2 separate regions of the Homo sapiens genome follow, and region 2 is linked to region 1. A link means that fine-mapping ties the variant in region 1 to the expression of a gene that starts in the linked region. Tissue or cell type: whole blood. Region 1 holds a variant in brackets; the other region holds the start of a gene. All regions are shown on one strand. Distances are from middle to middle.

Region 1 (4,397 bases):
AGTATACCTGAGCTTTAGTCATTTTGCTTATAAATTAGTAAAACCAGGCTACAGGAGAAATCAGTTCTTCATTGAGATAATCTTAAAAGTATATTTTCCAAAAGCAACAATTTCATATTCTATGTATTCCTCTTACATTATAGAAAAGCAACCAAGTAGAACATAGTCTTCTAAAAGCTCCAATAGTTGGGATCACTTTAGTATTATTATTTATTCAGTTGCTTAGTCATACCTAATTTTCTTTAGATCAACATTTCAGTTATAGTCTTTAATTTTAAAAAGTCAATAAGTTTACTCAATTTCTACCACCTGCATCCTGTTCCCTTGCTACGCCTTTTTTTTTTTTTTTTTTTTTTGAGATGGAGTCTCACTCCGCCACCTGGGCTGGAGTGCAGTGGCACAATCTCGGCTCACTGCAGCCTCCGCCTCCCAAGTTCAAGCGATTCTCCTGCCTCAGCCTCTCGAGTAGCTGGGATTACAGGTACCCGCCACTACACCCAGCTAATTCTTTGTATTTTTAGTGGAGACGGGGTTTCACCATGTTGGCCGGCTGGTCTCAAACTCCTCAACTTGTGATCCACCCGCCTCAGCCTCCCAAAGTGCTGTGATTGCAAGCGTGAGCCACCACGCCCGGCCCCTTGCTACACTTTGAATTGGCAGCACTTCAATTTTATTTCTCTTAGTACCTAATTAAACATTCACCATTTAACTGAACCATAAAAATACAGAAAATGCAATTCTGAAGCTGTTCTAATCCCTCCCTTTCCTGTCCCTGAGGATCCATGGTCTAAATCAGTGGTTCTCAAGTAACAGCAATTTTGCCGCCTGTCCCAGGGGACCTTTGACAATGTCTAGAGACATTTTTAGTTGTCACAACTGAGGGTTCTACTGGCATCCAGTGGGTAGACAGAGGCCAGAGATACTGCTAATAATCATTCTACAGTGCAGAGGAAAGCCCCTCACAACAAAGAATTATCTGGCCTCAAATGTCAGTATTGCCACTTTTAAGAAATCCTGGTCTAGAATAAGTTCCATCATTTTCCATATAGTTGATACAATATCATAAAACCCATTTCAAACATCAATCCCAAAACACATCAGAATCTAATTATATACAGCCATTCATTCAGTAAAGATTTACTGAGTAATACTATGTGGCAGGCACTATGGAAATAAAAGGAAAGAAAGAATCATTCTTAAAAGTTGTTCAGGCGAGGCACGGTAGCTCATGCCTGTAATCCCAGCACTTTGGGAGGCCGAGGCAGGTGGATCACCTGAGGTCAGGAATTTGAGACCAGCCTGACCAACATGGTGAAAACCCATCTCTATTAAAAATACAAAAAATTAACTGGGTGTGGTGCGGGCACCTGTAATCCCAGCTACTTGGGAGGCTGAGGCAGGAGAACTGCTTGAACCCGGGAGGTGGAGATTGCAGTGACCCAAAACCACGCCATTGCACTCCAGCCTGGGCAACAAGAGCAAAACTCCACCTAAAAAAAAAAAAAAAAAAAAAAGGTTGTTCAATGGGGAAGTCCATTCAATAAACAACTCACAAAACCCAGGCTCTTACCAGAAAATTCAATACTGTCTGTTATCTACTCCTATTAAGAGCTTAGTTGAGGCTGGGTAACACTTGAAGTCAGGAGTTACCAGCCTGGCCATCATGACGAAATCCCATCTCTACTAAAAATACAAAAATTAGCCAGGCGTGGTGGTGCATGCCTGTAGTCCCAGCTACTTGGGAGGCTGAGGCAGGAGGATGGCTTGAATCTGCAATGTAGAAGTTGCAGTGAGCTGAGATCACACCACTGCACTACAGCCTGGGTGACACAGCAAGACTCCGTCTCAGATTTAAAAAAAAAAAAAAAAAAGGCTATTTGAGAGAAGTGATAGGTGAAAAATTATCTGAAGGTATGTGCTTATCTATATCTAGGTAGTAAAAATCCTTGAATTAAGCTGGATGATAAAGGCTATATACTTGGATCATGTTATCTTAAGTCCTTGAAGAAATGCCTTCATTAAGCACCATGTTATTATTATTATTATTATTATGGAGACAGGGTCTTGCTCTGTAGCCCAGGCTGGAGTTCGGTGGCATGAGCATAGCTTATTGCAGCCTTGACCTCCTAGGCTCAAGCAATGCTCCCACCTCAGCCTCCCAAGTAGCTGGGACTACAAGCACACGCTGCCACACCTGGTTAATGTTTTACTTTTGTAGAGATGGGGATCTCACTACATTGCCCAGGCTGGTCTCAAACTCCTAGCCTCAAGTGATCCACCCACCTTGGTCTCCCAAAGTACTGAGATTAAAGGCGTAAGCCACCATATCTAGCCTACTTTTTTTATGTTCTTTTTTTTTGACAGGGTCTCCTGTCACCCAGGCTGGAGTGCAGTGGTGTGATCACTACTCTCTGTAACCTCAAACTCCTGGGCTCAAGCAATCCTCCTGCCTTAGCCTCTTGAGCAGCTGGGATTTCAGGCATGTGCCACCATGCCTGGCTAAGTCAATTTTTTTACAGACAGGGTCTCACTATGCTGCCCAGGCTGATCTTGAACTCCTGGCATCAAGCAATCCTCCCTCCCTGGCCTCCGAAAGTGCTGGGTTACAGGTGTGAGCAACTGCACCCAGTCTAAGCTCT[G/A]TATTAAAGTCATGCTCTCTGCTTTCGTTGAAGAATACTGTTAAGAAAGTCATGTGAAACCCATTACTAACTTCTCATAGGATCTTGCACATATCTTAGTACCACCTATGTGAAACTACATGTACATTTCTTTTAGAAATCAATGTTTCTTCCTCTCTGATGACAATTATAACTGTTTCCCTTAACTCTGACTGCTAAATCACCTATAGAGACAAATCAAGGCTCAACTATATCACCTAATAGGCCCATACAGCCTGAACATTTGTATATTTCCCCATCCCCAACCTAGCTGGTCTTAACTGGTATTTTAATTTTTCCCATTCTGGATTCGCTATTTATATTTTACCATCATTTTATTAGATTTGTTCTTGCCATAAGTTGCTTCAATGTACAAAATGTGGTCAGATAAGAACAGAATAAAAATTGAGGACAAGCAACAAGAAAACAATTACAATACTACTGCTAGAGGTATGCTCTGGCTACTTTGATAGCTTGAGGGAGGCCCCTAATGAAGGCAGTGAGGGTTAAAGGAAACTTCCTGAAGGAGCTTATGAGTGAGCTGAACACTGAAAGATAGACGAGGTGTTAATTCAAGAAGATATGAGGGTGAGAAAATGTTCCAGGCAATAAATAAAAGCAGGTTTAAGTTAACACAGAGGTGAAAGAAGCAGGTGTATAAAGGGAACTGCAATGCAAATGGTTTGCTTCTGCCAGAAAAGAAGTCATTTTGGGAGTGGCAAGACTTGACACCAAAGAGGTACTTTAGATGACATTAAGGACTTTGGAATCTGGCCTAAAAGCATGATTGGAAATATGAGAACAGTTAGGAATTTACTATAATAATCCAGGGAAGAAAAGATGACCCCCACAAATGATGACCCCTATCAGTTTCCACACATCAGCCATCTTTAATTACTAACACAATTCCTAAAATTGATTAGGAAATAATCCAAATCCCATCCTCAACGCATCTCCTTACCAACATTAACCTCTACAACATCATCACTGAAAAATGGGGTCAATTGCCAATAGGAATGAAAGGAATGAATCAATGTTCTTTGGCCAAAAACTTAAGAATCCTGATTTCTAGATTTTCCACTCTCCTTTGTATCTGATATTATCTGGACTTACTGGCAGCTCTAATAGGAAAGACTAAGAAAGTGTAATAGTTATTCATCTTACTCTAGACAAGCAACAAGACTCTGTTATGATTTTATTTCTTCAATTGTTCCAATCACAGTTTCTAATACAGAAATAAAACTATTCAGCGTCTCCGTTCTTGCTTCATTTTGTTTCACAGAGATCTGCATTTCTGAGTTTCCAGGCTCCAATAGCAGTTCTGTTAAGAACAGACAGCCAGTATCATCCTGAGCACTGAGGTATGCTTTCCATGGCCGAGACCCAGCCCTACTCATTGCGATGGTCTGGATGTTCACTACTTGAAGAGCCATCTGGAGGGTGTCAGGATGGAATTCTCCCCGCCAAGGCAACACTTGCTGATGAGCAACTTTAAGGCTAAGCCAAGTTTTCTCAAAATAATCAGCAGTAAGCTGGCGATTGGGGACTAGCATGAGGGCTCCAGAATCAGGGAGTTCTTGTACCCTCTCCTTGTTCTCTTCAGGAATCAAGGGTCCTAAAAGAGACAGAAAACTTGTGTGAAAGATGTTCTTAATCTGTAGGAGCTAAGTTTTTTATCCAAATTCCCAAATGTACACAATGTGACTTTTATTTTTGGACAAATGGCTGAAATAACCAGTG
Region 2 (4,397 bases), 22 kb before region 1:
GAGGCAGAGAAGCCAGTTAGGAGGTAGCTGCTATATTTTGGTGAGAAATTATAATGACTTTAGCTGAGAAAAGGTAAAATATTAGGGATATAGTCTACATTTTTTTTTTTTTGAGACAGAAGTTCGCTCTTGTTGTCCAGGCTGGAGTGCAACAGCTCTATCTCAGTTCACTGCAACCTCTGCCTCCCGAGTTTAAGCGATTCTCCTGTGTCAACCTCTTGAGTAGCTAGGATTACAGGTGCCTGCCACCACGCCCAGCTAATTTTTGTATTTTTAGTAGAAATGGGGTTTCATTATGTTGGCCAGGATGGTCTCAAACTCCTGACCTCAGGTGATCCACCCGCCTCGGCCTCCCAAAGTGCTGGGTTTACAGGTGTGAGCCACTGCCCCCGGCCAGTCTACATTATTTTAAAAAACACAACCAAAATAAAACAGAGGCCGGCACTGCCCCTCAGCTCACTTTTTACATCTATGCCTTGGGTTACCTTGGCTTAGGAATTATAGTCCAGGGGCAGGGACATGTATACACATGTGCTAGAACTTCCTACTTATCTCCTTTCAGGTAACTCTACCAGAGGGGCTCAGACTGATCAGCCAGTGGCAGTGAGAGCACATTTTTCATAGTACCACAAGATTATCCATGTTGAGCTGACATCGGAGTTCCTATCATAATATCTAATCACTCAATAATATCTAATTACTCAAGACTTTCAGAGTGTTTTCACATCTGCTATCCGGTACCAGAGTGTTAGCTCCAGGAGGCAAAGGTTTTGGTTCTTTTTGTTCACCGCTGTATTTTTAGTGCTTAGAACTGAACTTGGTACATACTAAGTGCTCAATAAATGGTACTCAATAAATGACCACATTTAATGATTGTTATTGATATTTAATCATCACAACAATCCTGTGAGGATAGGTAGGACATGTATTATTATCCCCATTTTATAAGTTAGAAAACAGAGAGATTTAAGAACATGTCAAATACTTCATAATTTGGTGAAAAAAAATCATGATTTAATTTCAGGTTTGTACTTCAGTTCCCCTCTTTCCACCCATTTCTTCACAACTGAAGAGCTAAGGTTTAAAATTCTTATATCTCTGAAACGCCAGCTGTAAGCATTCTAAAATACATGATAGGTACTATTAGACACCCTATGTTATCTGATATCTCAGCTTGTAGGGTGAATGAGGCCTACCCAGCTGCCATTGCATCAATAATCACAGTTCTCTCAAAGGAGATTCACTGTTCTTCTGGGTAATCTAATCCACCCAACCTGAAGCTACCTTGTACTCATGTTTCTCTCCTTGACCTACACTTGTCTCTACTCTCCATCCTAGCCATTCCACTTCTCCAAGCAAAAGAAGTTAAGGAAGCCCTGTTATTGAAAAAACACATGTTATAATATATTTTTCATATGAAAAAGAAAAGAAAAATGATGGCCAGACATAGTGGTTCATGCCTGTAATCCCAGCACTTTGGGAGGCAAGATGGGAGGATTGCTTGAAGCCAGGAGTTCGAGACAAGCCTGGGCAAAAAAGCAAGGCTCGTATCTACAAAAAAGAAAAAAACAATTTTTTTTTAAATTAGCCAGGCATGGCGATACACACCTGTGGCCCCAGCTACTCAGGAGGCTGAGGCAAGAGAATCACTTGAGGCCAGGAGTTCAAGGCTACAGTGAGCTGTGGTTGCACTGCTGCACTCCAGCCTGGGTGACAGAGTAAGATTCTGAATCTTAAAAAAACAAACAACAACAACAAAAAAAACTGTGGCAGTGGGTAGTTTTGGTGCTCTTCAAAAACCTTTGTCAACCAAATAGAATCCCAGAGGGGAGGCTAAAAATGTAATATTGCATGAAAAGTTAACATTGGTCTCTTTCTTCTTAATATTAATTAAAATTAGTAATATAAAGCATAAACCACAACTTAGATACCTGGGGAAATCTGGATGTTCAATTAATATTAGTGTTTTTACATCTGGAGTTGTATATGTCTTCTGTAGGATTCCTAACCAAACTCCAAAGAACTAGCAAACAAAATATTAAAACCAGTAATTTTGAGAGAATACCTGAAATACATGCAAACCACTCAGAGAAGTCAAACTTTTTTTTTTCTGTCTTCCCCGCCAAGGTCTCATATTTACTTTATCCCAAGAGCAATTTGGTCTCGGAAAATTGGACCCCCATAGTCAGTTAAATAGTGTATGTAACTACCCTGAGAGGGTCACATACAGGACTCACCAGAAATTCATTGGCAAACTCCTCTTTAGTAATTTTCTTGCTTTGGGCCTCATCCAGGAACTTCTGCAGAATTTCTCTTTGGTCCATGCTGCAGAGCAAGAAAAATAGTCTATAAGTAGGTTGAGGGAGGGCATGTCAAATGTGTGTCATGGCCGAGACACCTCCAAAAAGCCACTGCTGCCGCCTGAGCAGAGCATGCTGAAGGCTGTGGTTTACTGACTTCATCACAAGCCCTAGAGGAAATTAGTACGTAACCACCTTCTGTGGTCACATAACACAGCCATCATCTCACTCCAGGGCCCTAGTGCCTTCCTTCTCAGCAAAGGAACCTGGTTACAATTCAAATTTTTAACAAACAAGAGGCTAACTAGAACGTAAAGTGTGGTCTGCTTAACTGAGATTATTCCATTCCATCACCCATATGCAAAACTCACCTTTCTTCTTGCCTCCCAGAGAAAGAACAGAATTACAGGTCTCCTGAATGAGTTCTGTCTCTCCCCATTTTCCCAGTGAGCACAAGGGCCAAGTTGACACCTTCTGTTTCCTTATGTCCCAAATGAACTCTGCAAAGTTCAGTTAGGCCCAGGAAAGAAGACAGACACTGTTTAGAGTGAGTGACATGTCTTCTACCCGGACTGTTCATCGAAAGGTTTCTTGTCAGTGTGATCAATGAGAAACTTCTGTTCATCACAGAAGGTATTTTTATTCATAACTTTTAAGTCTGCTATATATACCTCAAACTCCCTTTTGAATGAAGCAAAGTCAGATGCTTCTGACAGTCTGTGTCTCTCCCAGGACTGGGGAAGTGCTGACCTCCATTAAGGGAAGTGTTGATTTCAGCACCTCTTCAACCCTCCCAGTAACCTTTGAAGCTTCACTTGGGTTCTGGATATAAAGACTAAGAGTGTTGGTCTATATAGGATCTAGAGCAAGTGGCCCCCACAAGGAGCACCTGACCAGACAGTTAGCTCAATACCCTGCATATGTAATGCTGGTAAACTGTGATGGAACAAAAAGAAAGTAAAATCAACCACCTTGCTGACAACATTGTAACTTTTAGGGCAGAAAGCCTGAAGAACTGTTTCTAAAGAACACATTTCTACTCTGCAACCAATGTCTTAGGAAATAAATTTGTTTCAGGAAGTTATGCTGTGCCTGTGGCATTTTGGCCCTGAAAGGCAGGCTCTTCTAGAAAAACTTTCCACATTTGAGCTTGCATAACCTCTCAATGGGTACAAGTCTACCCAAGTGCCTAATTCAGTGTGAGAACATCCAAAAATCAGTATATCATCTTTATTGAAGGCAGAAGTTCAACAAATGTTAACAAAATTAGTCTTGATCCTGAAGAAAACTGGGAAATGTGTTGTTAGGACTTCCTCTATTTAAGATATTAGCAATCCTTTCTGTTTTGCAACATTATTCAAACTTCCTTCAGGATATCATGATTCTGAACACTGCTTAATCTGAACATTAAAGATACTGCATGCTCTTTACTAAGTACTGCAAAAAAAAAAGAAAGATCATCGAGATATCTTGGTTATAGACAACTTAAAGACAATATTTCAAATTAAGAAACTCAATCCCAGTATACATAAATTAAAATAAACCCTCATTCTTCAGCAATATTTGTTAGGAATAGTATATTTCTTAAATTATCCCCATCTAGAATTAAGAGAGAATTTCTTGCTGCTCTAAGTAACGTGATGTTTACTTTGGCTATTTTAAAACATAAAATATGGGAAATCTTTGATTTATAAAAATACAAAATTTCAAGTTTGTAATAACTAAAACCATGTAAAAGTGTGTACATAGTTAAAGACTAAAAGAAGCAAAAAAGAATCAATTGTGTAAGTTTGCTTTCTAAAATTATCATAATTTTAGAATTATGATAAAGTTTGCTTTCTAAAATTATCATACCGTTTTTAAAATTAGAAATAAACATTTAAAAATCCATTAAGTTGTTCAACAAATTTATTGAGTACCCACTAAATTCTAAACATTGTCTTAGGAGATTGGCATACAACACTGAGAAAGCCAGAATATGGTAAAAACAAAACAAAACAAAACAAAAACATCCTTAGCCAGTTAATAAAGCAACTCAGAACTAAAGATACAGACATGATTACTGATAAAAATTAAAACACTCCTTAGGTAACTTTG

What was found. PIP is the estimated chance that this variant, and not a neighbour inherited with it, causes the effect.
Region 2: PTPN22 starts here. The variant in region 1 is the best candidate, but not a certain one, in a credible set for the expression of PTPN22 in whole blood (INTERVAL, PIP 0.78).

The regions. Positions count from the first base shown.
Region 1 is chr1:113,891,221-113,895,617 of GRCh38, forward strand. It overlaps AP4B1 (adaptor related protein complex 4 subunit beta 1), which reads right to left. Exons shown (of 10, transcript NM_001253852.3): 10 at 2,974-4,272. The coding sequence ends at 3,845. The region is part of intron 3 of AP4B1-AS1 (AP4B1 antisense RNA 1); the gene reads left to right. Among named protein-coding and RNA genes, the nearest start is that of BCL2L15, 5.8 kb to the left of the region's middle. The variant G/A (reference allele first, on the strand shown) is at 2,640.
Region 2 is chr1:113,869,300-113,873,696 of GRCh38, forward strand. PTPN22 (protein tyrosine phosphatase non-receptor type 22) reads right to left here and starts at 2,413. Exons shown (of 21, transcript NM_015967.8): 1 at 2,238-2,413. The coding sequence starts at 2,324. The region is part of intron 3 of AP4B1-AS1 (AP4B1 antisense RNA 1); the gene reads left to right. RefSeq lists enhancers at 1,551-1,600, 2,159-2,418.